Linked DNA regions of Homo sapiens. The protein of the gene in region 2 interacts with the protein of the main gene of each other region in a pairwise test. Each region holds a gene or a part of one and is shown on either strand. Other genes may lie near its edges.

Evidence for each region.
Region 1: the proteins of ITGB1 (region 2) and ENG interact in binary tests that used the Homo sapiens proteins (3 or more experiments, as listed by UniProt).
Region 3: the proteins of ITGB1 (region 2) and TOM1 interact in a two-hybrid assay, tested with the Homo sapiens proteins (one large-scale study listed by IntAct).
Region 4: the proteins of ITGB1 (region 2) and UPF2 interact in a two-hybrid assay, tested with the Homo sapiens proteins (one large-scale study listed by BioGRID).
Region 5: the proteins of ITGB1 (region 2) and ITGA2 interact in binary tests that used the Homo sapiens proteins (3 or more experiments, as listed by UniProt).
Region 6: the proteins of ITGB1 (region 2) and ITGA4 interact in binary tests that used the Homo sapiens proteins (3 or more experiments, as listed by UniProt).
Region 7: the proteins of ITGB1 (region 2) and LYN interact in binary tests that used the Homo sapiens proteins (3 or more experiments, as listed by UniProt).

What each region holds. Positions count from the first base shown.
Region 1 is NC_000009.12:127,848,159-127,851,658, reverse strand, and holds part of ENG (endoglin isoform 1 precursor), read left to right. Parts: intron 1-3,500. UniProt on the Homo sapiens protein: Vascular endothelium glycoprotein that plays an important role in the regulation of angiogenesis. Required for normal structure and integrity of adult vasculature. Regulates the migration of vascular endothelial cells.
Region 2 is NC_000010.11:32,919,648-32,924,591, forward strand, and holds part of ITGB1 (integrin beta-1 isoform 1A precursor), read right to left. Parts: intron 4,094-4,944; coding exon 3,938-4,093; intron 3,089-3,937; coding exon 2,993-3,088; intron 2,700-2,992; coding exon 2,610-2,699; intron 739-2,609; coding exon 598-738; intron 438-597; coding exon 238-437; intron 1-237.
Region 3 is NC_000022.11:35,305,624-35,310,567, forward strand, and holds part of TOM1 (target of Myb1 membrane trafficking protein), read left to right. Parts: intron 1-4,944.
Region 4 is NC_000010.11:12,035,051-12,039,809, forward strand, and holds part of UPF2 (regulator of nonsense transcripts 2), read right to left. Parts: intron 392-4,759; 5' UTR 374-391; coding exon 9-373; intron 1-8. UniProt on the Homo sapiens protein: Involved in nonsense-mediated decay (NMD) of mRNAs containing premature stop codons by associating with the nuclear exon junction complex (EJC).
Region 5 is NC_000005.10:53,090,352-53,092,815, forward strand, and holds part of ITGA2 (integrin alpha-2 precursor), read left to right. Parts: intron 1-167; coding exon 168-248; 3' UTR 249-2,464. UniProt on the Homo sapiens protein: Integrin alpha-2/beta-1 is a receptor for laminin, collagen, collagen C-propeptides, fibronectin and E-cadherin. It recognizes the proline-hydroxylated sequence G-F-P-G-E-R in collagen.
Region 6 is NC_000002.12:181,477,146-181,482,089, reverse strand, and holds part of ITGA4 (integrin alpha-4 isoform 1 preproprotein), read right to left. Parts: intron 3,334-4,944; coding exon 3,266-3,333; intron 1,954-3,265; coding exon 1,824-1,953; intron 493-1,823; coding exon 407-492; intron 1-406. UniProt on the Homo sapiens protein: Integrins alpha-4/beta-1 (VLA-4) and alpha-4/beta-7 are receptors for fibronectin. They recognize one or more domains within the alternatively spliced CS-1 and CS-5 regions of fibronectin. They are also receptors for VCAM1.
Region 7 is NC_000008.11:56,011,099-56,015,460, reverse strand, and holds the end of LYN (tyrosine-protein kinase Lyn), read right to left. Parts: 3' UTR 1,292-4,362; downstream 1-1,291. UniProt on the Homo sapiens protein: Non-receptor tyrosine-protein kinase that transmits signals from cell surface receptors and plays an important role in the regulation of innate and adaptive immune responses, hematopoiesis, responses to growth factors and cytokines, integrin signaling, but also responses to DNA damage and genotoxic agents.

The DNA.
Region 1 (3,500 bases), on a different chromosome or scaffold from region 2:
TACGCCTGCCTCAGCCTCCCAAAGTGCTGGGATTACAGGTGTGAGCCACCATGCCTGGCTGGGACTTTGACTTTCTCAGACACACTTTCCTGTCATGTTGGGTTTTTTTGTTTTCTTTTGTTTTAGGGACAAGCAGGCCGGGTGCAGTGGCTCACGCCTCTAATCCCAGCACTTTGGGAGGGAGGCTGAGGCGGGTGGATCACCTGAGGTCAGGAGTTCATGACCAGCCTGACCAACATGGCAAAACCTTGTCTCTACTAAAAATACAAAAATTAGCCAGGCGTAGTGGTGGGCGCCTGTAATCCCAGCTACTTGGGAGGCTGAGGCAGGAGAATCGCTTGACCCTGGGAGGTGGAGGTTGTGATGAGCCGAGATCAAGCCACCGCACTCCAGCCTAGGTGACAGAGCAACACTTTGTATCAAAAAAGAAAAAAAAAGAACAAGCATGTAGAGATTTTTTTAAAGCAATTAAAATTAACCATATAGCTGCCTCAGCTTGCCCCTCAAAAAAAATAGAGAAAAGGGAAAAAATCACCTCGGAACTCCTTTATTGATACAGGTACCGTTAGTATGGTGGTAGATGGCTTACTAGTTTTTTTTTCTAACTTTTTAAGCTACTTTTAATCCAGATGGGTCCACATTTTGGGAGTCTTTTGTCTATTTCTTTCGAACCAGGTCTCCATGTTGTCCTGTGGACTCCATGACCATCCTCTTGCACTTCTGGAATATTCTGTCCCATCAACTTGTCACCGTTTGCTTATTGTTAAATATTTAGGTGGTTTCCCCTTTGTTCTAGTTATAAATACTACCACAATGCACAGTTTTGGTACGTGCACCTTTTCCTGTATTTTGGATTATTTCATGTGGATTGCGTCCCGGCAGCAAGGCTGCAGCGGCTCGTGGCCTGTGCTGGGTGGCTGGGATTGAAGAGTGTTCCTGAGTGTGGAGGATCCTTTGCTGGAGGACTTAAAGTCCCCATGCTGCTGGCTGTCTGTGTTGGAGTCTGGGACTTGCTGGAGAAGGGTCAGTGGCGCAAGAGCGAGACCACAAACACCTGTCTCTTAGAGGCTGCGTTCCCATTTGCTAGGAGGAAAAAGAGCCTGGAGCAGGAGCCGTGTGAACCAGGAGAGGGTGGGCTCCCCGAGACACGGGGGACGTGACCATTAGCATTCTCCCTCACCCCAGCCAGACAGACGTGACCCAGAGGGACAGAGGGACTTGCTTGTGGTCACGGATGTGTTGGTGCTGGGCCCTCGGGCGACAGACCCATTCTTTTGCCCCAGGGCTGGAGGTGGATCTGGGCAAGAGTGAGGCGGCCACCTCTCCTCTGTCCCCAGCATGTCAGGCATAATGCCAGCTCCTCCTTGCCTCTATCCCCAGTTTATAGATGAGAAAATTGAGGCTTGGGACAAATGACAGGTCCAGATTTCAACTCCAGGCCGTCTGCTTCCAAATTCAGCTTCTTTTCCCCACAACTTTTGTGACCTGAATGCTGGAGACCTAAAGAACTGTTTACCCTTGGCTCTGGGACCCTGCTTCCTAGTTCCAGCCCAGGCTTTGGGGCACCAGCCTTGGAGGCTGAAGGGACCCTCAGCCAGGGTTCAGCTGGCTTCAACCCCTGTGGCAGGAGTGGGGGTGGGATAAAGAGATAATATAACAACTGACATTTATTCAGCACTTACAGTATGCTAGACGCTGCTCTAAGCGTGGTATGTGTACTGTCAGACTTAACGCTTGCAAAAGCCCTACAAAGGAGATACTCTTTCTGCCCCCATTTGACAGATGGGGAGACTGAGGTACTCGTATAACTCAGTCAGGTGAAGAAATTTACCCAAGTAACACTGCCCTGAAATGAGCCACTGGGGCTCAAGCCCTGGGCCTAAGCACTGCAGTGTGCTGCCACAGTGGAGAGGATGGGGATCTTCCTCTTGCCTGATCTTCTCCCCGCAGGCACTCAGCCTTTTCTCTGGTCCCCATAACGGCCCTCCCATCCGGGGTACAACCCCTGGGACCCTGCCTTTACCTTCAGCAGCCCCATCTATGCCCTGCTCTGTCTTCCTCCTGCCTTCATCCTTAGGTGAAATCTCAGACTGTCAGACCCCTAGTAGAACTTAGAATATGTCCTATCCACCCCCGCTCTTCCCCACCCACTAGCCATAGGGAAACAGAGTCCCAGAATGGTGGGGGGACTTGATGTGGGTCACCCAGCAGGTCAGAGGCAGCCCTGACCAGCCAGTTCCACAAATGGATGTTTGTGGTGTTAGAAACAAAATGCTTGTTCCTCAGTGCCGCAAAGAAATAGCACTTGAACATAAATTTAATCTTCTCAGCAAGGCAATTTTTACTTCTACAGAAGGGTGCGATTCAAGAATGGAGTAATGGCGAGAGCACATCTGAACAAGGGAGGGGAAGGGGTTCTTACTCCTGACGCAGGTAGCCCCTACTGCTACGTCGTTCCCCTACGGGCTAGTGTTGGACCGCACAGTCTAAGCTAATTCCAGTTAGCTATTTTAGAGAGAGCAGGGGTATGAGCCAGAGTGGCGGGGTGAGTAGTTTGGCGGGAAGGATGGTTAGGAACAGGTAACTAAAGGTGACTTAGGTCAAAGCAGGTGACCAGGGGTTTGTGAGGTCAAAGCACATGACCAGGATGAGTCAGGATGGAGCAGGTGACCAGGGGAACAGATGTGAACTACTGATTAAAACTGGTGGAAAAGGTTGTTTACTGAAACCATGAGGAAGTTAAACTTTAAAATGGAGGACAAAGAACTGAACATACTGACATACTGATTCTTTGAAGAGAAATCTAGAACTCACTGTATCCAGTGGAAGTGGATGTTTGCTCTGAGCCCTGGACTAACTGATTGGGACATGGAATGCTGTGGACTCTCCTTGTCCTGGAAAAACTCACTGTCTGCTGGGAGTGCAGACACACTGACAAATCAAAACAGCACACCTGGGCATGTATGGTCTGGTTCTCCAAGGACACCCAAGGACGGATGCACCTAAGAAAGGAGGGACTGGCTTCAGTGAGATTTTCAGGACAGGGTTTTGAAGGATGAATAGAAGTTTGCTAGGGGCTGGGCATGGTGGCTCATGCCTGTAATCCCAACGTTTTGGGAGGCTAAGGTGGGAGGATCACTTGCGGCCAGGCATTCAAGACCAGCCTGGGCAACATAGCAAGACTCTTTCTCCACAAATATTTTTAAAATTTAGTTGGGCATAATGACTCATACCTGTAGCTGCTCGGGAGGCTGAGGCAGAGGATTGCTTGAGGCCAGGAGGTGGAGGTTGCAGTGAGCTATGATTGCACCACTGCACTCCAGCCTGGGAAACAGAGCAAGACCCCGACTCTCCAAAATTAAAAAAAAAAGGCCAGGTGGTCAAACAAAGGATGAGTGTTGGTCTGGGAAAGGGCATGGCAGAGGCAGGAGCGAGGTGTGTTTAGGGGAAGAGCCCACATATCCCCACTGACTGGGCATAAATAATTGTGATAGTAGTCA
Region 2 (4,944 bases):
CATGGCTATAAAATCTTTTATTTTAAAGAGTAATCACTTTAAGAAAAAAAGGCAGGAAGGAACTTTCTATAAATATCACACACAAGATCATCAAACTGATCTTGTGGTGAGCAACCGTGGTTGGAAAAAATAATTTGCTCCAAATAGAGAGATATTCTCTGGATGTCCCAAAATATGACCTGCCTATACTCTCTAAACCAATGTAGCTCTGTCACTGTCTGACAACACCCAGCTTACCTGCACGCGCCACACTCAAATGTCCCATTTCCTTCATGACACTTGGGACTTTCAGGGATGCCTTCGCTTTGGCATTCACATTCACAGATGTACTGAAGAATAACCTCTACTTCCTCCGTAAAGCCCAGAGGCCTAATTTTAAAGCTGTCAGAATCCTTTTTTGGACACTTATTTGAAGTTATGCTAATTTCAAATTGAACCTTGAAGGGAAAAAAAAGATTAACAACCAACTAAACAATTTAAATCTACTAAAAAATATTTCAAAAAGTTGCTCACTTATTTTAATGTTTCTCAAACTATAAACTAAATTTGCTTATAAATAACCAATGTTTTCTACAGAAAATGCTTTATACAACATACCTCATCTCCAATGGAAATATTGGAACATTTTCTTCCATTTTCCCCTGTTCCATTCACCCCGTTCTTGCAGTAAGATTTGTAACTTATTGTTACGCCTTCTGACAATTTGCCGTTTTCCAAAATGACTTCTGAGGAAAGGGACTAAAAGAATGCCTAATTATACACAGGAAAAGTCAAACAAAATGCTACTTGAATGCATAAAACCAATGGATAAACTGCTCAGAAAAAAATATATTTCAATAAAGTATCTACAAGCCAAATCCAATTGAGTAACTAGAAAACACAGAGGCCAGAGAAACAGGTTTTAATTAATAAGGATCAAATCTTTAAAATAAAATACACAATTGAAAAGAGTATTCCTGTTTTAATCACTGAGTTAAAATACTCAGGATCACACAGTGCAGAGGGCTGTTACTAATTAGGAGGAGTCTTAAAAATGTGGAATAGGCCGGGTGTGGTAGCTCACACCTGTAATCCCAGCACTTTGGGAGGCCAAGGTAGGTGGACTGCCTGAGCTCAGGAGTTGGAGACCAGCCTGGCCAACACAGTGAAACCCCATCTCCGCTAAAATACAAAAAAAAAAAAAAATTTATCCAAGCATGGCAGTGTGCACCTGTAATCCCAGCTACTCGGGAGGCTGAGACAGAAGAATCGCCTGAACCCGGGAGGCAGGGGTTGCAGTGAGCCAAGATCACACCACTGCACTCCAGCCTGAGCAACAGAGTGCGACTCCATCTAAAAAACAAAAACAAAAACAAAAACAGAAACCCCCCAAAAAAAAACGAAATAAATGCTGTCTTCCCCATCGGCAAAATGGCATTTCTGTAGTCCTACCTCTCCAGCTAACTATGGACTAGGGTAAACAATCAACTATGCAGTCTAGGAACAAATTTGCTTAAGGAACCATTGTAGCCCAGCCAAAAAAAAAAAAAAACAAAATCCCCCAAGAAGGAAGGATTCAAGCCAGGGCTTGTTTAACATATGAGACTATTCAGGACAAATGGAGAAGGGTACAATGGCAAGCTATCTCTTGTTCACACCCCTGAAAGAACAAGAGTTAGGAAAATTATCTAAGACAGGGGAGAATGGGAAAAGCTGTGGAACAAGTAAAATATTAAAAACCTTTATAAAAACCCCTCCAAGTCAGGCCTTTCCAAACCATTATGGTACCCCATAAAAAAGGGAAGCCTCATATGGTAGGCTGGCCTTTCCAAAGCGTTATGGTACCCCCATGACATGAAGTAAAAATGTCTAAAATTCAAGCTGCCAAAGGGTTAGGGGGATGGGGGCTGAAAGTGGTGCACGAGACACACAAGGGTTACCTACCAAATTACAACCGCCTTCAGATTATTTAAATGATTATTAATGAAGGCTAACTCGGTGTGATTAAAGTACACTGAATTATGCTCAAAAAGGATAAGCCAATTCCTCTTTAATTTCAATTCAACTTCCTCCCATCTGTGAGGGGAAAACAACACTATAAATCTTTTTGAAATAGGCAAATCACATGTATATTTACATTTTTATATATTTTATGGTATACGTATATATGAGTGTGTACCTCCTGAAATAGAAACCCATATCCTCTGAATATATGGGAAGAGAAGAATTGGCAAAAAAAAAAACTTTTCTAGCACAATTCATCAGAATAGATGACTCTATAAAGGATATTTTGGGGAGGAAAAAGATTGGAGAAATCCTGTAAGTTTAAATGTAAGTTATGTTTTACAATTGCTTTCTAACAAGGAGATCTATTCCTTAATGATAAACAAACAGTTATTTGGAAATACTCCCCACATGCCTTTATCACATTTTCACTTTGTTTAGGCCATGAATCTTGCTTTTGTAAGACAATATGTATAAAGTTTTTCCTCTAGATACATACAGAATTTAAGTTTTTCTGTAGTACTTTGGGCTCGCTAAAGTGTGTATGAAGGAAGTTTTACTTTCTTTGTACAAAGTATTCTCAACAGGGTATTGTCCAAAACTGATCTTATTTAAGATGTACTCACATTGTATGCATCAATGATCAACTGAATTACATTGCTAGAATTTGCAGATAATGTTCCTACTGCTGACTTAGGGATCAAGTTTTTCAGCTCCTGCAATTAAAAGATAAAACACGTAAAATACAACTGCTATTCATTCAACCAATTAGGATCCACTGAGCAACTTTTATCTTTAAATGCCAGTTCCCATGTTTCCTCCTAACTAACTTTAGGAGTCAAACCTAGAAACCAGTTTTATAATATGTGATTAAAAATTAATATAAACCACTTTTGTAAAATTCGGTTTGCCTATCTGGTGGCATTTTCCCACATTTCAATTCAGACATGATTTGCCTCTAACAATCAAAAATGTTTAGAATCTTGTTCTTTTTATCTCACACATTTACCTTGTAAACAGGCTGAAATTCTTCAGTAACTGCAAAAATTGTCTGAATATTATTTTCACTCAGTTTCTGGACAAGGTGAGCAATAGAAGGATAATCCTAAGAAATCAAGTAATATAATTTAGTATTTAAATACACCCTTATAATCTCTTCTAATTTTTCAATCTAGTTATACATGCAAGATTACACATAACTCGATTACAAGACTGCTTTAGATAACTAGATTACATATATAATCCATATATAGCTAGATTACATCTAGTTGCATACATATAACTAGATTACAAGACTGCTTTCAAATAACAGTATCAAATATAAACTGCTGAAGTGAGTCGTGTGTATACATGAATTGCTAATCCTCTTCTCTTTACTTTCATGTATGAATAAAAAATTCCATATTCAAAAGGTTTTAAATAGTAAGTTTATCTATGTATATTAAATATAAGGACAATGAAATTAAAGAATAGTCAGTAATTAAATATTCTATTATCTACAACTTAAGAAAAAGACCAAGATTTACCATTTGGATTTCTTCTAGAACTTGAATGCTTTGCCAATATTTATTTTCAATAAAGGCAGAGTGACTGCTTTTAAAAATCGTATAAAACAAAGAGTATGAGACTAGATAAATTATTTATTTAGAAAGAGTACTGACTGTGCTACCAAATGCTGTGGGCGGGGAGTTGAGGCAAAGAGTGAAAGTGGCATCTGGGCATCCCTTTCCCACCCCAGTGAGGCCCTTGTCTGAGCAGAAGGAAGCAAATACAAAGCTGCATCTTCACAAACAGCAACACTAGCTTTCCTGCACTTTCAATCAGGACCCCTACTTACCAAAACAGCAAAACCTCAAACCCTGAGAAACCCCAAGCCAGTCACCCACAAGCTCTTAGTATTAAACATTAAAATCCAACATAAACACATTCACTATGTAAGGAACCAGGCACTTACATAATAATGGCTCATTGTGTACATATTATTTTCCAGGTGACATTGTCCATCATTTGGTAAAACAATGCCACCAAGTTTCCCATCTCCAGCAAAGTGAAACCCGGCATCTGTGGAAAACACCAGCAGCCGTGTAACATTCCTCCAGCCAATCAGTGACTTGAAAAGAAAAGGATTTCAATTTTAAAACACTATTCACAGTAATTCAACAAAAATCCTTTAATTTTCATATAGGCCACCATTGTATTTTTAACCTAATTCTGTATTTTCTGTGTCTTCTCTTTATACAATGGTAATTATCTTGCTGAGAAACACACAAAGCCCACTGAATGAAGCTCTTCCATCCCATGTACAACGATATCTTGCCTGACCATCCGTATCTCTCAATCTCTCAGTTCTTTTTAAAAACTGTTTTTTTGTTTTGTTTGGTTTGGTTTAGTTCTGCTTATCATCATATCTCCAGCAGCTAGCAAGCCAGCACACTGCTTGGCAAGCAGTAAGCCCTTGATGAGCATTTGCTGAATAAATGAAAGTGTCTGAGCCTATCCTTACTTTACCCCACTGCTGCTGTCTTGTCCCCATCCACCCATCTCTGCTCTATGTTCTATGCCATGCACCTTCTTTATCAGCCCACCATATGAGGCTTCCTTTTTTTATAACAGAAATAAGTATCTTGTTTAAGGATAATTTCACCCATTCTAACTCCTCAATCAGTACTGTTTATGCACTCATTTACTTTATCCTTGCCCTTTCCAATAAAGAATCTAAAGTAACTGTAAAATCTTCTTGTCACTATGGTAATTTATAATTATAAAATCATAGGACTATAGGAATTTACCTGCTTTCGTTAATTTATTTAATACGTCTGTTTAGATCTTCATAAGACAGTAAAATACTTTAAGGTGGGAATCACATTTATTAATACTGGCAATCTTTCAAAAGTGGAATGTCTGATTCTTTTGCATCTAGAGGAGTGGATCAGCATGACCAACACAGAAAAACAGCCACAA
Region 3 (4,944 bases), on a different chromosome or scaffold from region 2:
CACTCTAGCCTGGTGACAGAGTGAGACTCAATCTCAAAAAAAAAAAAAAAACTGATGGGTGCTGGGGAGGACTGATAGAACTGAATGTGCAGGGCTCCAAGGGCATGGTGTGTGGTTACAGGAATAAGCAGTTCGGTTTCAGTATAAATAGCTATCCCCAGAGCCTTGCAAAGATGGAACTGGCTGCCTTGTTCAGTAGTGAGCTCCCCACCACTGGAGCTGTGAAGGCAGAAGCCGGGGTGGGGAGGGCGACTATAAAGAGGATTCCTGTGTTGGTTAGCAGACTAGACCAGGGTCAGTGAGCTTTTTCTATAAAGGGCCAGATAGTAAATACTTGTGGCTTCGTGAACCAGATGGTCTCTGCTGCAACTACCCAGTTCTGCCATTATAGCACAAAAGCAGCTACATAGGCCATAGGTAAATGAATGAGAATGACTGTGCATAAATAAAAATATTTATGGGCAATGAAATTTGAATTTCACGTAATTTTCACATATCATGAAATATTATTCTTCTTCAGCTTTTTTTTTTCCCAACTATTTAAAAATATAAAGACCATCTGTAGCTCGAGTACCATACAAAACAGACTGAATTTGGCATATGGGTTCATAGTTTGCTGACTTCTGAATCGGAGCAGCTGGCCAGAGGCAGAATGATGGAGCACACTGTTCCTCAAAGTGGGGTACCAGAGCACCCACACTGGGGATGCTTGAGGGTGCTTATCCCCACAGTGTGCCCATGTGAGCCCTAATATCTTGAAGCTTCTGTTTCCTGATCCGTAAGTACAGGACCCACATTAGATCCCCAAGTTTCTGTCTTGAGGATGACAGAGCTTTGTCTAGAAAGGGCTTTGTATCAGCTGTACACATATTAGTAGAGCCCAGGGTGAGCTTGAGTCAGACTGAATGGTCTGAGTCCTGGTTCAGTCCTCAACAGCTTTGTTACCAGGAGCAAGTTACTTAACCTCTCTGTTCTTCAATGTCCTCGTCTGTACAATGAGGATAATAATAGCACCTATCAGATAGGGCTGTCGTGTTGTTGTGCTATAAAGCACTTCCTGCCAGACAGGAAGTCTCTGTAATTATTAGCTGTTGTGATTTTTCACTGGTGTTATCATTCCTGGGACCCAGTCTAAGTTAGTAGCCAAGCTAAGTGCCAGCCCAAGATTCTGACTCCAGTGCAGCCTTTGTGATGGTCTTTGTGTCCCTGGCAAATGAGCGGTCACTGGCTGGGTGGCCACCACATTCACAGACAGGTCAGGTTTCAGGCTGTGGGGAGGAGCAGATTCTTACTTGGAAATTAAGGCCTTTGCCTTCCCCTATGGATAGAACTGGTGAATAGGTTTTATTCCCTTAGTGAGCTCAAAGAAATAAGAGTATAGTCCCAGACTTCCACTCTTCTGGTTTTAGAAAAAAAAAAACCCAAACCCTCAGTGTCTCCTAATTAGCTTGAGGCCATCACCCCATGAGAAGCAGGGGGATTCAGGACAGTTTAACTCTTTACTGCCTTACTAAGGAGATCTTGATCTAGGCCAGTGCCCTCCAAACTTCTGTCTTTCATGTAGCTCATTTGTGATTTGTGTCTACCCCCATGCCACCTTCATTATTATTTTCGTAGGGTTTTCTTTTCATTAGCTTATCTGTTAAAATTTGACCTCATCCTATATAATTATATCCATGAAATCATGGCTTTGATGTTCGTGTTTTTTTCCTATCCTGCATTAAAGTAAATAATGCAGGAGAGGAAAAATTTAATGTCCCTCTAAAAATGTCTTTAAGTTTGCCCATGAGCCCACCTGGCATGATCCCAGGTAGCTCATTTTGATCACTGGGACGTAAGCAGCCTGAAATGGGGTCACAGCTTAGTCTCCGCATCAGAAGAGCTGGGTTCAGGTGCCAGCTCCGCCCCTTCCCGGCTGTGTCCCCCAGGTCTCCTCCTCAAGGGACACGGGAAACTTAGAAGTTGATAGAGCACTGCAAAGTGCGGTGGAGAACCACTGTGCAAGCCCTGAGGAGGGGAACTGGGCCTCGCTCCTGCTGGGGAAGGTAGAGAAGGGAAGGACGGAGCCTGGAGTCTTCCCAGAAGGGAAGGACGGAGCCAGGGGAGAAGGGAGGGGGAGAGAAGAACCAGCCAGACCACAGGGGCTGAGACAGACAGAGAATTTAGGGACAGACAGAGGGGTCTACTGTTTGAACTTGTTTGTGTTGGTGCAGTATAAACCCTGTAGTGGTTAACTTTATGTGTCAACTTGGCTAGGCCAGGGGAGAAAGATAGTTGGTCAAACATTATTTTAGATGTTTCTGTGAACGTATGCCTTAGATGAGATTAACATTTAAATCACCAGACCCGCGTAAAGCGTATTGCCCTCAATAACATGGGTGGGCCTCGTCCAATCAGTTGAAGGCCTGAATAGGAAAAAGACTGACCTCCCCAGAACAAGAGGGAACTTGGCCAGCAGGCTCCCCTTGTCCTTGCACTTGGACAGCATCTGTTTCCTGGATCTCCAGCCTGCCAGCTCACCCTACAGATTTTCAACTTGCTAAGCCTTCACACCTGCATAAGCCAATTCCTTAAGCGCTCGCTCTTTCTCCTGTGTGTGTGTGTGTGTCTGTCTCTCTCTCTCTCTCTTTCTTTCTGCTAGTTCCTTTTCTCTTTTTTTTTTTTTTTCTTTTTTTTTTGAGACGGAGTCTCACTCTGTTTCCCAGGCTGGAGTGCAGTGGGGCAGTCTTGGCTCACTGTAACCTCCACCTCCCAGGTTTAAGCAATTCTCCTGCCTCAGCCTCCTGAGTAGCTGGGACTACAGGCGCGTGCCACCACACCTGGCTAATTTTTATATTTTTTGTAGAGGCAGAGTTTCACCATGTTGGCCAGGCTGGTCTTGAACTCCTGACCTCGTGATCCTCCCGCCTTGGCCTCTCAAAGTGCTAGGATTACGGGCATGAGCTACCACAGCCAGCCTAGTTCCTTTTCTCTAGAGATCCCTGACTAATACAAAGCCCACTCCACCCCTGACCATCCAGATTGTCAGCAATACCTTTTACACTCCCAAGTGGGGAGTGAAAACAAATGCCATCTGTACCTCAGCCAGCCACTTCAAGCCTCTGCCTTCACAGCCTCACTTCTTACCTGGGGAGTTTTAGAAAACCTTTCTTTATCTCACTGACATTTCCTTTTGTTAGGTACTATAGTTAGTTACATCGACTTTAACATTGTGGGTTGCGGAAGCAATACCCTCTGTAAGGTATTTTAGGGTTTCTCTTGTGGTTTATGGTTAAAAAAAATACAGGGGAGAGGCAGCCAGGGTTTTGAGGAAGGGTGGCTCAGCAAATTAGGAGATGGATGGAACTTTCCACGCTGGGTCTGGAAAGAGTTATTCCTTTGGAAAATAGTTTTCAAGACAAGTTTCTGGCTGAAAAAAAAATAGCTTCTGCATATTTGTGATTTAAAAATCTCTTATGGGGTGCTTGAAATTCTCAATCATGTTGTGGTTGATATGTTTGTAGAGGATAGCATTTATTTTGGTGCTTGAAATGTATACACTCCTCCTCACACATCCCTGGAAGGTGAGTGCTTTGGTCATCTTTATTCTGTAGAGGAGGAACTGAGGCACAGAGAGGCCGAGGAGTTACCCAGGCTCACACAGCTGGTAGGTGCTGGAGTCTGGGCAGGATTTGTCTGTGTCTGCATCCCATCCTCCCAACTTTTCCATCTCACCGATTCCCCCTTAGAACTGAAAGAGGCCAGGCGCAGTGGCTCACACCTGTAATCCCAGCACTTTGGGAGGCCAAGACAGGCAGATCGCCTGAGGTCAGGAGTTCAAGACCAGCCTGGCCAACATGGTAAAACCCCATCTTTACTAAAAATACAAACATTAGCTGGATGTGGTGGTGGGCGCCTGTAATCCCAGCTACCCTGGAGGCTGAGACAGGAGAATCGCTTGAACCGGTGAGGCGGAAGTTGCAGTGAGCCAAGATCGTGCCACAGCACTCCAGCCTGGGCAACAGAGTGAGACTCCATCTCAAAAAAAAAAAAAAAAAGAGAGAGAACTGAGAGACCTGCTGGGTTTCCCTTTGAGTGACAACATCTGTGTCCATCTAGAATGAATTCGTTCAGTAGTGGCTTCTTCTGTATTTCTGCCTAACCTTCTTGACCACATTGGTTTCATCCTCGTGCTTGCATTCTCACGGTAGGAAGCACAGGTGAAAGTACCAACTGTCTGTGTCTCTGTTACCAAGAAAGCAAAACCTTCCCCAGGAGCCGCCCAAGAGACACCCGCTTCCATCTCTGTGGCCAGAAGTCCCAGGGCTACTTCTGGCTGCAAGGGGGTCTAGAAAAGCTAAATGCTGTGAGCCCAGGGGGAGCATCTTCCACAACTATTGGAGTCAGCTCCACATGGTAGGGTTAATAAAAATTTCACATAGTCACTGAGTACAGTAATAGAAATACAGTATCTAGCAAGGACAGGTAAATGTGGCGTGTGGGTTCCCACACTGCATTTCCAGATGGACAGCATGGCTGGCCTATATCCAGAGGGGTCGGTCAGAATAGGGTGAAGGCTCTGGAGATCATTATCAGAGTGGAGTGGTCACAGGTCCTGAGGATGTTGGAGGACAGATTAAGGAGGGACGTGGTACTTTTTAAAAGTATTCAAAGGGTCACGGTGGCTCACGCCTGTAATCCCAGCACTTTGGGAGGCCAAGACGGGTGGATCACGAGGTCAAGAGATCGAGACCATCCTGGCCAATGTGGTGAAACCCTGTCTCTACTAAAAATACAAAAATTAGCTGGGCATGGTGGCACACGCCTGTAGTCCCAGCTACTCGGGAGGCCGAGTGAGGCAGGTGAACTTCAACCCAGTAGTTGGAGGTTGCAGTGAGCCGAGATCGTGCCACTGCACTCCAGCCTGGGCAACAGTGAGACTCTGTCTCAAAAAAAAAATGTATT
Region 4 (4,759 bases), about 21 Mb from region 2:
TGCCTTACTTCATCTGAGCAGCTGCTTCTTCTTCTTGCTGACGTTTGGCCTGCTCTTCTTGCTTCTTTCTCTCTTCCTCTTGATGTTTCTTTTTTTCTTCCTCTTCTTTTTTCTTTGATTCTTCCTCTGCCTTCACCTTTTCTTCGTCTTTTTTCTTGCGTTCCTTGTCTTCCTTTTTTCTCTTATCATCTTCCAGTCTCTTCTTCTTGTCTTCAGGGGCCTTGCTGACCTCCTTCTTGGCAGTGAGCTTGATATCGTCTTTTGGCCTCTCCTTGCTGCTCACTGTCCGCCTTTCACTGCAGTCTTTTTCCTTGTTGTTTGGTAAAGAGTCTTTTTCTTCCATACTTGCTGGCTTTTTACGCTCAGCTGGCATTATGTGACCCAGGACAATCTGTAAGAGGGAAAGAATGTCAGTACCATAGATGCAGTGACTTTTTAAAATGATATCACACTATTTTTTTAAACAGAACATATTAATGCAACTTGGCAATTGTAAAAGAGTAAATAAAGGCAGGTAAAATGAATACTATTTCTGTTACAAAATAAGTTATTCATCACATTCCACATCCTATCATTATTAGTTAGGCCTATGTCTAAGTACTTGTTTTTTACTTTTTATAAGGAAAAATCCAAGCCCAGACAAAAGTAGAGAGCATAATATAAGGAACCTCCACGTACCCATCACTCAGATTCAGCCACTATCAACTCCAAAACAATATGTCATTTAATTGTAAATACTTCAGAATATATCTGTGAACATTTTGAGTCAGCTTTAACCCTAGCATTTGACAACCATGAAAGATGGCAGTTCACTATTTCATATAATATTCAATGTCAGTATTTCAGCTGAGAAAGGAAACAAAAACAAGCCCTTGCCTCCTATATGTCAACGGACAAAACAGAACAGCGGACTCACGAATCTCACTTCATTGCTCTAACCTTATCATCAAACTTTCAGATACAAAAACTGTTAACTATCTCAAATTAAACTAGACTTTTAACTTCTTCATCTGTATTAGTTAAAGTTAATTTATAAATAAACATGAACCTAAAATCCGTATGTTCTGTGCTATATCTGTCAATACAGAGTAGCTATTAGCCCAGGGTTTCTAAAGTTCAGCACCATTGACAGTTTGGGCAAAATACTCCTTTGGTTTTAGAGGAAAGGGGTCACCATGTGCTCTGTAGGAGGTTTAGCAGTGTCCCTGCCTGCTATGCAGTGCATACAAGTAGCTCCTCCCTCATTTTGACAACCAAATATAACTCCAGACATTGCTAAATATCCGTCGGAGAAAAAATTATCACCCAAAAACTGCTGCACTAGTCATATGTGGTTACTTAAATGTAAATTAATTAAAATTAAATAAAATTTGAAATTCAGTTCTTCAGTCAGTATCTGTATTTCAAGTGCTCAATTCCACATGTGACTAATGGCTTCCATACACAGCAGGGCAGATACAGAACATTTCCACAGAAAGTTCTATTGGATAGCATTGGCCTATAGTACAGGCTTATAGTTAACTGAAAGTAACTGTGGAACAAAAAACTATACTTTGCAGGAAAATTCTGAATTTTTCTTTTCTAAAAATATATTTCTCTACTCAGAACTAGTTGTCTAATTTCTTTTAGGCATGGTGTTTCACGTTTTAACTCCTAAATTATCTAAGAGTTGTATATAAGAAAATCAAAATTCGGCCAAGCACAGTGGCTCATGCCTATAATCTCAGCACTTTGGAAGGCCAAGGCAGGCAGATTACCTGAAGTCGAGAGTTCGAGACCAACCTGACTAACATGGAGAAATCTCGTCTCTACTAAAAATATAAAATTAGACGGGTATGGTGGCGCATGCCTGTAATCCCAGCTACTCGGGAGGCTGAGGCAGGAGAATGGCTTGAACCCGGGAAGCGGAGGTTGTAATGAGCCAAGATCACGCCATTGGACTCCAGCCTGGGCAACAAGGACAAAACTCCGCCTCAAGAAAAAAAAGAAAATCAAAATTCTATTTTAGAGGTAGAAAATTACCTAAATTTCTTAGTTTTATGTTTTCTTTTTGAAACAGGGTCTCACTTTGTCGCCCAGGCTGGAGTGCAGTGGCACAATCACAGCTCACTGAAGTCTCGACCTCGCAGGCTCAAGTGACCCACCTGCCTCAGCCCCCCAAGTAGCTGGAACAGTAGGTGCTCAACACCACATCCAGGTAATTGTATTTTTAGTAGAGATGGGATTTCCCCATGTTGACTAGGCTGGTCTCGAAATCCTGAGTTTAAGTGATCCATCCACCTGGGCCTCCCAAAGTGCTGGGATTACAGGTATGAGCCACTGTGTTTTTGAGCTTTAGTGTTTTTGTTTTTCTTTTTTTTTTTTTTTTTGAGTCTCGCTCTGTTGCCTAGGCTGGAGTGCAGTGGTGTGATCTCGGCTCACTGCAACCTCCACCTTCCGGGTTTAAGTGAACCTCCCACCTCAGCCTCCCAAGTACCTGAGATTATAAGTGTGTGCCATCACACTCAGCTAATTTTTGTATTTTTAGTAAAGATGGGTTTCACCATATTGGCCAGGCTGCTTGAATTCTTGACCTCAAGTGATCCATCTGACTTGGCCTCCCAAAGTGCAGGATTACAAGCATGAGCCACAGTGCCCGGCCAGCCCTTCGTTTTTTTTTATTAAAAGCAATAGTATCCTTAAATATTTTCAAATATAGGTTTTAAATTACAGCACTTAAAACTAGGTTACCAAAAAAAGCATTTGTAATATTGATATTTTTTAAATACAAAAATACTTTACTTCAGTACTCTATTAAAATGTTAATTTCACAGAAAGCAACCTAGACCAACAGAAACACTTTAATTTTTGCAGGTACATGCCACAGCCTGTACCTTCTCATAACTACCTTTTTCCTTCTCCTTTTTCTTTTACTCCCTCATTGCTCTCCACTCCCTTGTTCTATGCATTTATTTTGACAGTGACACCTAATAGCTGTAGTTAACCCCACTGGTAAAACTCACAACAACAACAAAAAAGCTATTGGGCCTATTTTTAAAATCGTCATTAGGGGCTGGGTGCGGTGGCTCATGCCTGTAATCCCAGCAATTTGGGAGGCCAAGGTGGGCGGATCACCTGAAGTCAGGAGTTTGAGTCCAGCCTGGCCAACATGGTGAAACCCCATCTCTACTGAAAATACAAAAATTAGCTGGGCGTGGTAGCAGGCGCCTGTAATCCCAGCTACTGGGGAGGCTGAGGCAGAACTGCTTGAACCCAGAAAGCAGAGGTTGCAGTGAGCCAAGATCATGCCACTGCACTCCAGCATGGGCGACAGAGTGAGACTCCATCTCACACACACACACACACACACACACACACACACACACACACAAATTACCTTTAATATATGAAAAAGCAGGCTGGGCACCATGGCTCACTCCTGTAATCCCAGCACTTTGGGAAGCCAAGGCAGGCAGATCACTTGAGGTCATGAGTTCAAGACCAGCCTGGCCAACATGTGGAAGCCCCGTCTCTACTAAATATACAAAAATTAAACAGGCATGGTGGAGGGTGCCTGTAATCCCAGCTACTCGGGAGGCTGAAGCAAGAGAATCGCTTGAACCCGGGAGGCGGAGGCTGCAGTAAGCCGAGATAGCGCCACTGCACTCCAGTCTGGGCAAAAGACGGAGACTCCGTCTCAAAAATACAAAAAAAAACAACAACAACAACAAAAGAAAAAGCATTTCTATGCCAAGACAACATTAGCATTTATATTATCTATTTTTTTAATTTAAAAAAAAACTGTTTTAATAAAATAGAGACAAGGTCTCAGTACGTTGCCCTGGCTGGTCTCACACTCCCGGGCTCAAGGGATCCATCCTCCCGCCTCGGCCTTCCAAAGTGCTAGGATTACAGGTATAAGCCACTATACCCGGGCAGCATTTCTATTATCTAGAAGTGTAGTTATTGATTCTTATACATTTTCAATTAAATATCCAACTTTAATGTGAAAACATCACGCCCTTAAAGCAAGCAAACTTTCAAAAAGACTATAATACTAATACACTACTCATGGTACCATACTAAACATTTTACGTATATTATCTCATTTAATACTAAAATCTTTATGAGGTGGGTATTATTTTCCCTATTTTATAAATGAGTAAACTGAGACTTGACCAAGTAACTTGACCAAGGCCTGCACAGCTGGTGACAGAATGGGAATCTGAACCCATTCTCTGAACCAAAGAATCCTAAGAGTACCAAATTGTGAGATGGGAGACATGCTGGTAAATACTGACTATAGCAACCCACAGAATTATGAATCTCAAGAGTAGAAAGAATCCTTCATAATGGTTAAGGAGTTCTCATGTAATGTTTTTAACTTTTAGCAGACTCTGGCTGAAACATATGGGGACAATTTAATATCTAAGGTAATAACATGATCTTATTGAAGGATATTAATCATTAAGTGAAAAAAGTTTATATAGATTTCACATTTTCTGATGTGACGCATCAACAAGTAACATTTCAGGACCACAGGACACTACAAAGAATGGCATCAGAACTTACAATTATGTCTCTCTCTCTCTCTTTTTTTTTTTTTTTTTGAGATGGAGTCTCACTCTGTCGCCAGGCTGGAGTGCAGTGGCACGATCTCGGCTCACCACAACCTCTGCCACCCGGGTTCAAGTCATTCTCCTGCCTCAGCCTCCCGAGTAGCTGGGATTACAGGCATGTGCCACCATGCCCGGCTAATTTTGTATTTTTAGTAGAGATG
Region 5 (2,464 bases), on a different chromosome or scaffold from region 2:
TTTCCTTCTAGCAGGTGGTAGATATCAGGTCATCAGTCTGCACACCTCCCTTCAGAGCCTCAGGGATTCCCAGAGGTGCATCAGAGGACGTGGGCAGCCAAGGGGGTCAGAGGCACCTTACAAAATAAGCCACGGGTGGTAACATTCTTATATCATCACCTTTACAGCTCGGCTTCTTCAAAAGAAAATATGAAAAGATGACCAAAAATCCAGATGAGATTGATGAGACCACAGAGCTCAGTAGCTGAACCAGCAGACCTACCTGCAGTGGGAACCGGCAGCATCCCAGCCAGGGTTTGCTGTTTGCGTGAATGGATTTCTTTTTAAATCCCATATTTTTTTTATCATGTCGTAGGTAAACTAACCTGGTATTTTAAGAGAAAACTGCAGGTCAGTTTGGAATGAAGAAATTGTGGGGGGTGGGGGAGGTGCGGGGGGCAGGTAGGGAAATAATAGGGAAAATACCTATTTTATATGATGGGGGAAAAAAAGTAATCTTTAAACTGGCTGGCCCAGAGTTTACATTCTAATTTGCATTGTGTCAGAAACATGAAATGCTTCCAAGCATGACAACTTTTAAAGAAAAATATGATACTCTCAGATTTTAAGGGGGAAAACTGTTCTCTTTAAAATATTTGTCTTTAAACAGCAACTACAGAAGTGGAAGTGCTTGATATGTAAGTACTTCCACTTGTGTATATTTTAATGAATATTGATGTTAACAAGAGGGGAAAACAAAACACAGGTTTTTTCAATTTATGCTGCTCATCCAAAGTTGCCACAGATGATACTTCCAAGTGATAATTTTATTTATAAACTAGGTAAAATTTGTTGTTGGTTCCTTTTAGACCACGGCTGCCCCTTCCACACCCCATCTTGCTCTAATGATCAAAACATGCTTGAATAACTGAGCTTAGAGTATACCTCCTATATGTCCATTTAAGTTAGGAGAGGGGGCGATATAGAGAATAAGGCACAAAATTTTGTTTAAAACTCAGAATATAACATGTAAAATCCCATCTGCTAGAAGCCCATCCTGTGCCAGAGGAAGGAAAAGGAGGAAATTTCCTTTCTCTTTTAGGAGGCACAACAGTTCTCTTCTAGGATTTGTTTGGCTGACTGGCAGTAACCTAGTGAATTTCTGAAAGATGAGTAATTTCTTTGGCAACCTTCCTCCTCCCTTACTGAACCACTCTCCCACCTCCTGGTGGTACCATTATTATAGAAGCCCTCTACAGCCTGACTTTCTCTCCAGCGGTCCAAAGTTATCCCCTCCTTTACCCCTCATCCAAAGTTCCCACTCCTTCAGGACAGCTGCTGTGCATTAGATATTAGGGGGGAAAGTCATCTGTTTAATTTACACACTTGCATGAATTACTGTATATAAACTCCTTAACTTCAGGGAGCTATTTTCATTTAGTGCTAAACAAGTAAGAAAAATAAGCTCGAGTGAATTTCTAAATGTTGGAATGTTATGGGATGTAAACAATGTAAAGTAAGACATCTCAGGATTTCACCAGAAGTTACAGATGAGGCACTGGAAGCCACCAAATTAGCAGGTGCACCTTCTGTGGCTGTCTTGTTTCTGAAGTACTTAAACTTCCACAAGAGTGAATTTGACCTAGGCAAGTTTGTTCAAAAGGTAGATCCTGAGATGATTTGGTCAGATTGGGATAAGGCCCAGCAATCTGCATTTTAACAAGCACCCCAGTCACTAGGATGCAGATGGACCACACTTTGAGAAACACCACCCATTTCTACTTTTTGCACCTTATTTTCTCTGTTCCTGAGCCCCCACATTCTCTAGGAGAAACTTAGAGGAAAAGGGCACAGACACTACATATCTAAAGCTTTGGACAAGTCCTTGACCTCTATAAACTTCAGAGTCCTCATTATAAAATGGGAAGACTGAGCTGGAGTTCAGCAGTGATGCTTTTAGTTTTAAAAGTCTATGATCTGGACTTCCTATAATACAAATACACAATCCTCCAAGAATTTGACTTGGAAAAAAATGTCAAAGGAAAACAGGTTATCTGCCCATGTGCATATGGACAACCTTGACTACCCTGGCCTGGCCCGTGGTGGCAGTCCAGGGCTATCTGTACTGTTTACAGAATTACTTTGTAGTTGACAACACAAAACAAACAAAAAAGGCATAAAATGCCAGCGGTTTATAGAAAAAACAGCATGGTATTCTCCAGTTAGGTATGCCAGAGTCCAATTCTTTTAACAGCTGTGAGAATTTGCTGCTTCATTCCAACAAAATTTTATTTAAAAAAAAAAAAAAAAGACTGGAGAAACTAGTCATTAGCTTGATAAAGAATATTTAACAGCTAGTGGTGCTGGTGTGTACCTGAAGCTCCAGCTACTTGAGAGACTGAGACAGGAAGATCGCTTGAGCCCAGGAGTTCAAGTCCAGCCTAAGCAACATAGCAAGACCCTGTCTCAAAAAAATGACTATTTA
Region 6 (4,944 bases), on a different chromosome or scaffold from region 2:
GCTCAGAAAAGCTGGGTGACCAATGTTCACATAGCGACACAGCAAAAACTAAAACCAGGAATAATATTTCCTTCTTTCTAGTCTTACTACAAAATATGTAGCTACCTCAACTTCTTTTCAGCTGTGAAACTGTTCACCATATACTCCCTGGACATTTTTAGATAGTTCTATCTTATAATTTTCTTAAAACAATGTCTCGTTTGACTTTTGTAATTTTTCAGAAAGTTTTTTGCTAAATTTCTTCTAAAACCATAACATCTTTCACCAATTCCACTAAATGTAATAATCTGTTCATCATTTCTAATCTTTCTTTCCTTACAACATTCACAGTTTCTCCTTTAATATCTTATTCATGCAATATATTTGAACCTTTGTGAAGAAATAAATATAAAAATGTAATTCTTACCTTACCAATCTGCTCATGTTGAGGAGCTCCTCCGACTACTTCGGTAGTATGCTGGCTCCGAAAATGACCAGCTCCGACTGAATATCCTTTAAGAAAAGGGAGAAAGTATGAGAGTCCTGGGTAAAGTACATCATATGGTAATATGGGTAAAATAGATCATAAAATTAAATGATACCGAATTCAAAATCACTACATTAAGCAGTTAAGAATATTTAGCATAGAGATACTCAAAATTGGTCATTCATTATGTTTTATGCAATTTTGATATGTTTTACAAAACTGCAGTCATATGGTATGTATTTCCGAGTCCTAGAAATTGAAAATAGCATCTTTACATCTGGTGCAGTATAATCAGTTTCTAGGATTACAACAGACATATTTTAGAGTATATTAAATATAAAATCTCAATTGGGAAATGAAAACTTTAAACTTTAAATAAACATCTTGCTGAAGTTCAACTTTTTTTGCCACCAAATCTTTGTGATGACTTTTCGATGACAAAAAATTGTTCGTATTTTATGTGATAAAAGGCGTAACAAGTTATATTTCTTGAACGATTTCAAAGTATCCTTTCATCATAAACAAGAAAACATTGAATTGTAACAAATTCTTCTACTTGAAATTTCTTCTGTTTGAATAGAAAGAAAGAGTGCTTATTTTATAATTATTTCTGAGTGTAAGATGCTCACATTTGACACACATACAGTTTAAACAAAGCTGGATTTTCTGAAAATCTATAGGAAAAGCATTTATTTTCTTGTAATGGACATTAATGCCAGAAAAGTTTGCATTTCTGTTGAAATACAGATGATAAAGTATCCTACTATTGACTTATGAGATGACAGTGAGGAGGAGGAAGATGATAAAAATAGTTAAGCTCTGGGAAATATTCTAAGAACTTATGAGGTGAAGGTCAATGAGCTGTTTTTAGACCCATGTGCTTCATGGAGCCCCTCATCCAGAATGTGGTGGACAGTACCACTGGCTTTCAGTTGGTGCTTAAGGAAACTATACTTACTTATGCAGATGTTTAAATGAGTTAATTCATGTAAAGTTCTCACAAAAAGTTCCTGAGATATGGGAGGCACTCAACAGAAACAACCTGTATAATCAGTTGACTACATAGAGATAGAAACTTACTAGTGTTTCCTAAAGTGAACTACAAAGAGTAAACTAAACTAGGAGTTCTATTAAGAATTATATATTGATGATTTTAGTCACATGTGTAAATGTAAAATACTGAGTTCACTGAAGTTTCATAAATCCTATCCTTAAGAGACAGTTTCTGAACTGCCTAATTATTACTGTAATTATACTGGCCATTTAGATCTTTGGAAAATACATTTTCCTTATTTATAATTACAGTACTAGTATTTGTAAGGCACAGATCATTTAAGTTTGTCAATTTTTATAGTACCTAAATAACTTCCAAATTTTACTTGATTTTGTTTGTCTAAAAAAGCCTTGTATTTATTTGTAGTTATATTGTAGACAAAAAGAGAGCCAGTCCAGTAAGATGATCCTGGGGCCCCCATCACAATTAAATCCTGTAAGAAAAAAAAAACTATTATTATTTAAACTTTAATCTCACCACCCCAAACCTCCTCCAGATACACGATAGTGAAGAGAACATATTTTTATAATAATCAATTCCTGAAGTAGGAATATTCTGTGAAGTTAAAACATACTAGGAAAAAAAAAAAGCCAGAGAAGTTGGCTAATGGATTTCTAAAAGCGAAATCTCAGAGAAGAAACTCTGAAACTCTCATTCAATGCATTTATCAGTGGATTTCAAAAGTTGAAGGGACAAGTACTGAACGCTAGAGTAAGCTTTTGGGAGAAAGGCAATGTGGTTCCTATTAAAGAAAATCGTATGTGGGTAATTCATTAGTGCTAATTATGGAGATAATCATGTGTTGCCAAAGAATAAAAAGTAGACTTAATTTACTTCTATTTGCAAAGAACCCCTGACTAATAATGTTAGCTTAGGGAAAACATTTCTAATAATGTTAGCTTAGGGAAAAAAGTCCAATGGAATGTGGGGCATATTTTGTTATACAGAGGAAAATTTAGGAGAAGATTGGAATGAGCATGCCCTTGCCTGGTATAGTATGAACACTTTCAGCAATTAAATATCTTTAGCATATTTCTATACTCCTAAACAATCCTAAACTTAAAAAAAGTCAACTTAAACTGAAGAAAGCATTTTCTTTGTAAGCATTTTAATATAACTGTTAATATGTGCAGACACTGTCAACCCCAAACTTGATATAGTGCCTGATCTTCATGGAGTCAAAAAACATTCCTGAATTCACAGTGTGTTTTTAAGAAAACTGAGAGATTTGGGGTTGAGTACAACTGTGCCCTTTCATACATATCCTAGAATGTTAGAAAGAGAGTAAGAAATCTTGGGAATATTGTCTATCTGATTTAAGGGGATATTAAATTCTTAAATTTCCCAATTATCATAATTTAATGAAAAATATAGACTGATATTCTTCCTTTGCCCCTCAACTAGAAATTTAAAATAACATACTTGGGTTGATATTTTCAATACCTAAGTTAACAAGACAATTAACCATAGCTACTTTTGATTTTCATTAAATTGTTGATGAAAGAAATGTTCTTTAGTATAGATTTTCATTCATCTTATGCAGTATAGCCACCTAAATATTGATATTTTATTGAAATATATGTGGAATTTTGAGTGGCAAAAATTAAGTTGTAATACTCAAGTTTAAGAGACATGATGAAGATGTTACACAATTTTTACTTTAAAACATATCAGTCTTCCAAACCATGAGAAGAATTAAGATTCTATATGTAAACATTTATAGCAGCTATTTTTTGAACAATTACCTTTGTGTAAAAACTGGATATTCCAGCTTGACATGATGCAAAATTTTCTCCAAATTTTTTCACATAATCTAAAATGAAATATTAAAACAACTCAGAATTTTATCTTAAAGATAAAATCTCCATAATTTGTTTCTTAAATCCTTACAAAAATGTCCTTTAAGGTCTATAGTTTGTATTTTTTAAAAATAAAAACCAGTAACCTTGATATAACAAATCCCTTCCATATTAGTATTCAAAATATCCCTATGAAATGGCAATAAAAATATCTCCCTCTGCTTCTTCATAGGAAGCACACACAGCATATACTCAAAAAATTTTTGTCAAATGAGTAAGACAGAGGTAGGATTTGTGATTTTGAGCCCATGCTTTCTTTTTACTGTGTATATCTAAGGTGTACAACATCAGGTTTGATATGCGTATACATAGTGAAACAGTTACTACACTTTACATACCTCCTCACGGTCATCTTTTTTGTGCATTTAGAGTGAAATCTACTCTCTTGGCAAATTTCCAGTGCACAATTATTAACTCCAGTCCTCATGCTGTACATTAGATCTCTAGACTTATTCATCCTACACAAATGCCAACATCTTTCACCAACATCTTCCTATTCCTAACCCTCTCTCTGCTCACCTTCTTCTCTATGTATTTGACTTTTTTAGATTCCACAGATAGGTGAGATCATACAGTATTTGTCTTTCTGGGCCTAGCTTATTTCACTTAAAATAATGTCCTTCGGGGTCATCCATGTTGTCACAAAAGTCAGAATTTCCTTTTTTAAAGGCTGAATAATACTCCATTGTATATGTTTATGTATATATGTGTGTATATATACACCTCACACAATTCCTTATCCATTCATTCATCTGTCAATGGACACTAAGCTTGTTTCTGTAACTTGGCTATTGTGAATGCTGCTGCAATGAACATAAAAACGCAGATCTCTTTATGTGGTACTGATTTCATTTCCTTTGGATATATACCCAGAAGAGGGATTGCTGGACCATATGGTAGTTTTATTTTTAATTTGAGTAACTTCTCTACTGTTTTCTATAATGGCTGTACCAATTTACATTCCAGCCAACAGTGTGCAAGGGTTCCCTTTTCTTCACACCTTCGCCAACACTTGTTATCTCTTGCCTTTTTGATAATGACAATTCTAATAGGTGTGAAGTGATATTTCATAGTGGTTTGTAATTTGCATTTCCTTGATGATTGGTGATGTTAAGCACCTTTTCATCTACTTATTGGCCATTTTGATGCCTTCTTTGGAAAGAAAGCCATTTGGTCTCTTGACTAATTTTTAATCAGTTATTTGGTTTTTTGCTATCGAGTTGGTGAGATCCTTATACATTTTAAATATATAGGACTTATGCGAATATTATTTCCCATTCTGCAGACTGTCTCTTCACTCTGTTGATTATCTCCCTTGCTATGCAGGAGCTTTCTAATATAGTCTCATTTGTTTATTTTTGCTTTTGTTGTTTGAGCTTTTGGTGTAATTTCCAAAAACTCATTGCCTAGACTAATGTCAAGTAGCTTTTCTCTTATGTTTTCCACTAGAAATTTTATGGTTTCAGGTATCGTGTTTAAGTCTTTAATCCATTTTAGTTGACTTTGGTATATTTGCTAAGATAAGCGTTCAATTTCATTCTTTTGCACGCAGATAGCCAATTTTC
Region 7 (4,362 bases), on a different chromosome or scaffold from region 2:
ATCTCAAAACAAAACAAAACAACAAAAAAGATTTCTTCATCAGTGTTCACTGAGGCTTTACCACCAAATATTCAATATACTCACTGTATTAATCTTTTCTTATTTGTTTTTATTTTTATTTATTTATTTATTTTGAGATGAAGCCTCGCTCTGTTGCTCAGGCTGGAGTGCCATGGCATGATCTCAGCTCACAGCAACCTCCGCCTCCCGGGTTCAAGCAATCCTCCTGCCTCAGCCTCCTGAGTAGCTGGGATTACAGGCATGTGCCACCATACCCAGCTAATTTTTTTTGTATTTTTAATAGAGACGGGGTTTCATCATGTTGTCCAAGCTGATCTCCAACTCCTGACCTTAGGTGATACACTCGCCTCGGCCTCCTGAAGTGCTGGGATTACAGGCATGAGCCACCGTGCTTGGCCCTAATCTTTTTTTAAAAAACCTGAAATCAAAAACATACCTGACCCTAAGGGTGGTAGATAAGGGATAAAGGACCTATCGTCAAAGCCCAGCGTAAGTCTAACAATAATAATAATAATAAAAAAATCACAGATAATTTTCTTGCTGTGTGACATGGTATCTACTTTTGGGGCTGTAGATTAAGGCCTCTTTTATTTCTAAAAGTTCTGCGTTAACATTGAACATTGGCCAATCTAGATTATTTCTAAAGTCCTTCCAAAGACCTAGAGATAGAGGCCGCCAAGATTCCCTGTCATTTCCCCCTTAAAGAGAAATATTCAAGATCTGTGAATATCTGTGGCCATCTCGGGAATTCTGTGACACTTTTTGGCACTCTGACTTGAAGTATTTAATAGATTTATCAGCACACAGGAAATTAAATTGGAAGGCTTTCCTCTTACACGTCTATCAAGTTAAAACTTTTCAGGATAAAATTTTTATCAGTTTTAGTAACATTCATGTTATGAAATGGAACATAAATGCTACTGAAACTTAATTTTTTTTTTTGTAGAGACAGGGTCTCATAATGTTGTCCTGGCTGGTCTCAAACTCCTGGCCTCAAGTGATCGTCCTGATTCAGCCCCTCCAAAGTATTGTGATTACAGGTGTGAGCCACTGTAGCTGGCCAAAACATTTTATTCTGAAGTGTAGTCTCTACAAATTGTCTTTAAAAGTGTGAATGGTAAGTTAAATTCTTGCATTACTTTTCTACCCAAATAAAATTACTTAAGGAAAAATTTCCCCTCCCATCTGTGTGGGCTCAAATGGTGCATCTTGTAAGTAATACCCTTGCTTACTCAGAACACTCAGCTGAGTCAGGGAGATTCTACACAAAGGTGTTTCACTGGTTTTATTTCACAAGGAAACAATATGAAGCGAAGCCAATCTATTCCTTCTGTGGCTTTAAATGCTCCCGATCTCTCAGCTGTGAAATAGTGATAGCATTGTCCAGATCTTCCAGGGTCGTTGTGTGAGTTAGAGATAATTTTTATCATTTGCCAAAGCACAAGAGGGCCCTGAGTAAAGAATGTGTGTATGGGTATCTTTGTATGTTTATAATTACCATTTCCATCAGGAAGAACAGCAAGACTTCACTTAATCTAAAATATTCGTGGAGTTAAAATGTAGGGAATAGAGAACTACGATCTCTCTTCCACCAGCCAGAAGTGGAAAATAAAGGAAGATGCTAAGAGGAAAGCTGGGCGGTTTGATCTCATCTGAGAGGTGTTCTTGGCTGAGGAAGCAGGAGATGTCCGACAACTGGCTGTGGAACCTGGCAGTGACATCAGAAGAGCTGGGGAGCGAGCCCTAGGACCAGCATTTAATTTATTTGAAGGTGTCAGAAGCTGAGGTTGCAGAATTGAGTCCTTTTAGCAGCTACCGCCCCTGGATGTAGTTTGTGAGAGGACGGGGAATAAAGAGAAAGCAGACCCCGACCGGGCACAGTGGCTCACACTTGTAATCCCAGCACTTTGGGAAGCCGAGGCAGGCGGATCGCCTGAGGTCAGGAGTTCGAGACCAGCCTGGCTAACATGGTGAAACCCCATCTCTACTAAAAATACAAAAATTAGCCAGGCGAGATGGTGTGTGCCTGTAGTTCCAGCTACTAGGGAGGCTGAGGCAGGAGAAGAATCGCTCCAACCAGAGAGGGGGAGGTTGCAATGAGCTGAGATCGCACCACTGCAACTCTAGCCTGCGTGACAGAGTGAGACTCTGTCAAAAAAAAAAAAAAAAGAGAGAGCGAGAAAGCAGACTCCACAAGCTGACGTGGAGATGAGTTTATACTTATGATGCTTTCAGTGCCCTCGATCTATCCCTGGTGTAGGCAACAAAATTAATTCCCTCCTTTTAGTTATTATCCTTTTATGCACCCTTGGGACAGCCAGGGCTGCTGGCTTCTGTGGCAGTGAATTTCCCCTAGAAGGGGGCTTGGACAGTACACGTTCCCAGTGGCTCATCAGAAGTACTTTCTGCAAGGGGATTCTGTGGAACCTCAGGAGGTATGCCTGGAGAAGCCACGGAAGCCCCAGGTGGCCCCTACTACTAAGGACACTGGTTTCTAGCCTGTGAGTCTCCTTTAGGTTCAGTGAGCTTCATGTTCACCAGGAAGGAAGGCACGTTTTTTTCCTCCTTCCTTCTCTTCCACTCCCCTTTGAGAAATGAAACCATCTGAGGAAAAAGAAGGCTGGGCTTTGTAATATGGGTCAAACCAAATGGTGACTCTCAAGACTGAGCATACATTATATTCACCAGGGAAGGGTTTTTTTGTTTTTTTGGTTTTTTTTTTTGAGACAGGGTCTCACTCTTGCCCAGGCTGGAGTGCAGTGGCACGATCATAGCTCACTGCAGCCTTGACTTCCTGGGCTCAAGCAATCCTCCCACCTCAGCCTCCTGAGTAGCTGGGACCATAGGTATGTGCCACCACACTTAGCTAATTTTTAAAATTTTTTGTAGAGACTTGCTATATTGCTCAGGCTGGTGTCTAACTCCTGAGCTCAAGCGATCCTCCTGCCTTAGCCTCCCAAAGTGCTGAGATTACAGGCATGAGCCACTGTGTCTAGCTGACTGGAGAAGCTTTTAAAATAGACTGACATACATCTCCCGCTGCACAACAGCTAAGTCAGAATCTTGGCGGTAGGGAGTATGGATTCTGTCTTTCCAGTTCTCTACAATAACCTGAGGTGTGATGACATGAGCCATTTTGCACACCACTGGATACCCGAAAATGCTACAAACACCTATTCAGCCCCTCATTATGCCTGTCTGTCACAGGGAGGCTGGAAACCTATAGCTAAGTAAGGAGACTGTGTGTGCTGTTCATCAAGGGAACGTGTGACTTCCACACATGCTGGACACCAGAGATGAGGCCCAAGCTGGTGAAGGGCCCACATGGAGGTAAGGATCACAGGCTTGATTGGGAGGGAAAGACAAGTGGAAAATGGCAAGAAGAGGAGGAACTGGGAGAAGCAAAACAAGGCGAAGATAAATTTAATAATTTTCTTTAAATAAATTTGTTATGCTAAAAAAAAAACCTCTAGTCATTTTCTAGAGACTTCTTTTTGCCTTAGGGATTCTTTATAGTTCCTCTCCATGTAACATATTGGGTAATACTTGTGGTTCTGAAATAAAATGCAAGCAGGGGGGTGTACACAAAAACCTTACCACTGAATCAAGGGACCAGCTGTGCAGACATTATGTAACAGTAATATTCTATAGTTCTGAACATGGCACTTGTGAATCAATAATTTTAGAATATTTTAGAAAGGACATTTAAAAAAATCACATAGGAAACAAAGTTAAAATTTAGAAAAAAGTAGAATATTTTATCCCATCTTCTAAGCACCTCAAGCCTAAACAAAACACACAGAATGAAATTTTAATGATGCCTGTTAAGCCTATTTGAAAACAAATTCTATCTGGCCCCCATAAACGGATGTTCAGGTGTTCAGGCAATCAACTCCTTGGTTCTCCAATCTGAAATGTTCAAAGGAAGGAGGTAGAACTTGGGCAAGTTTAAAGCATGTAGCTCTGTTGAATCACTTCTAACCACCCCGCCCCCAGCTGATGACCAATTTTTACACTGACCACAGCTGAAAATGTAAATGCAAATAAAAAGCTTGAGATGTTATTGGACGAGGTGTATTAAAATAAAATCAAAAATAGAAATATTAGGTATATACACAACAGCATAAGTGAAACACATCATGTGATACAGAAGTTTCCATTCAAAGCTTACAGGAGAAAAATTTAGTGAACAGAACCGCTTGAACCTCCTGCCACCGTGGCTTATTAGAGCCTTGTAGTCACTTATGTTCCTTCATATCCTTGGGTATAAATAGTCTCATACACATGCTACACAATTTAGAAAAGATTGCTGAATCATAAAAATAGCCCCGAATGTGGCAC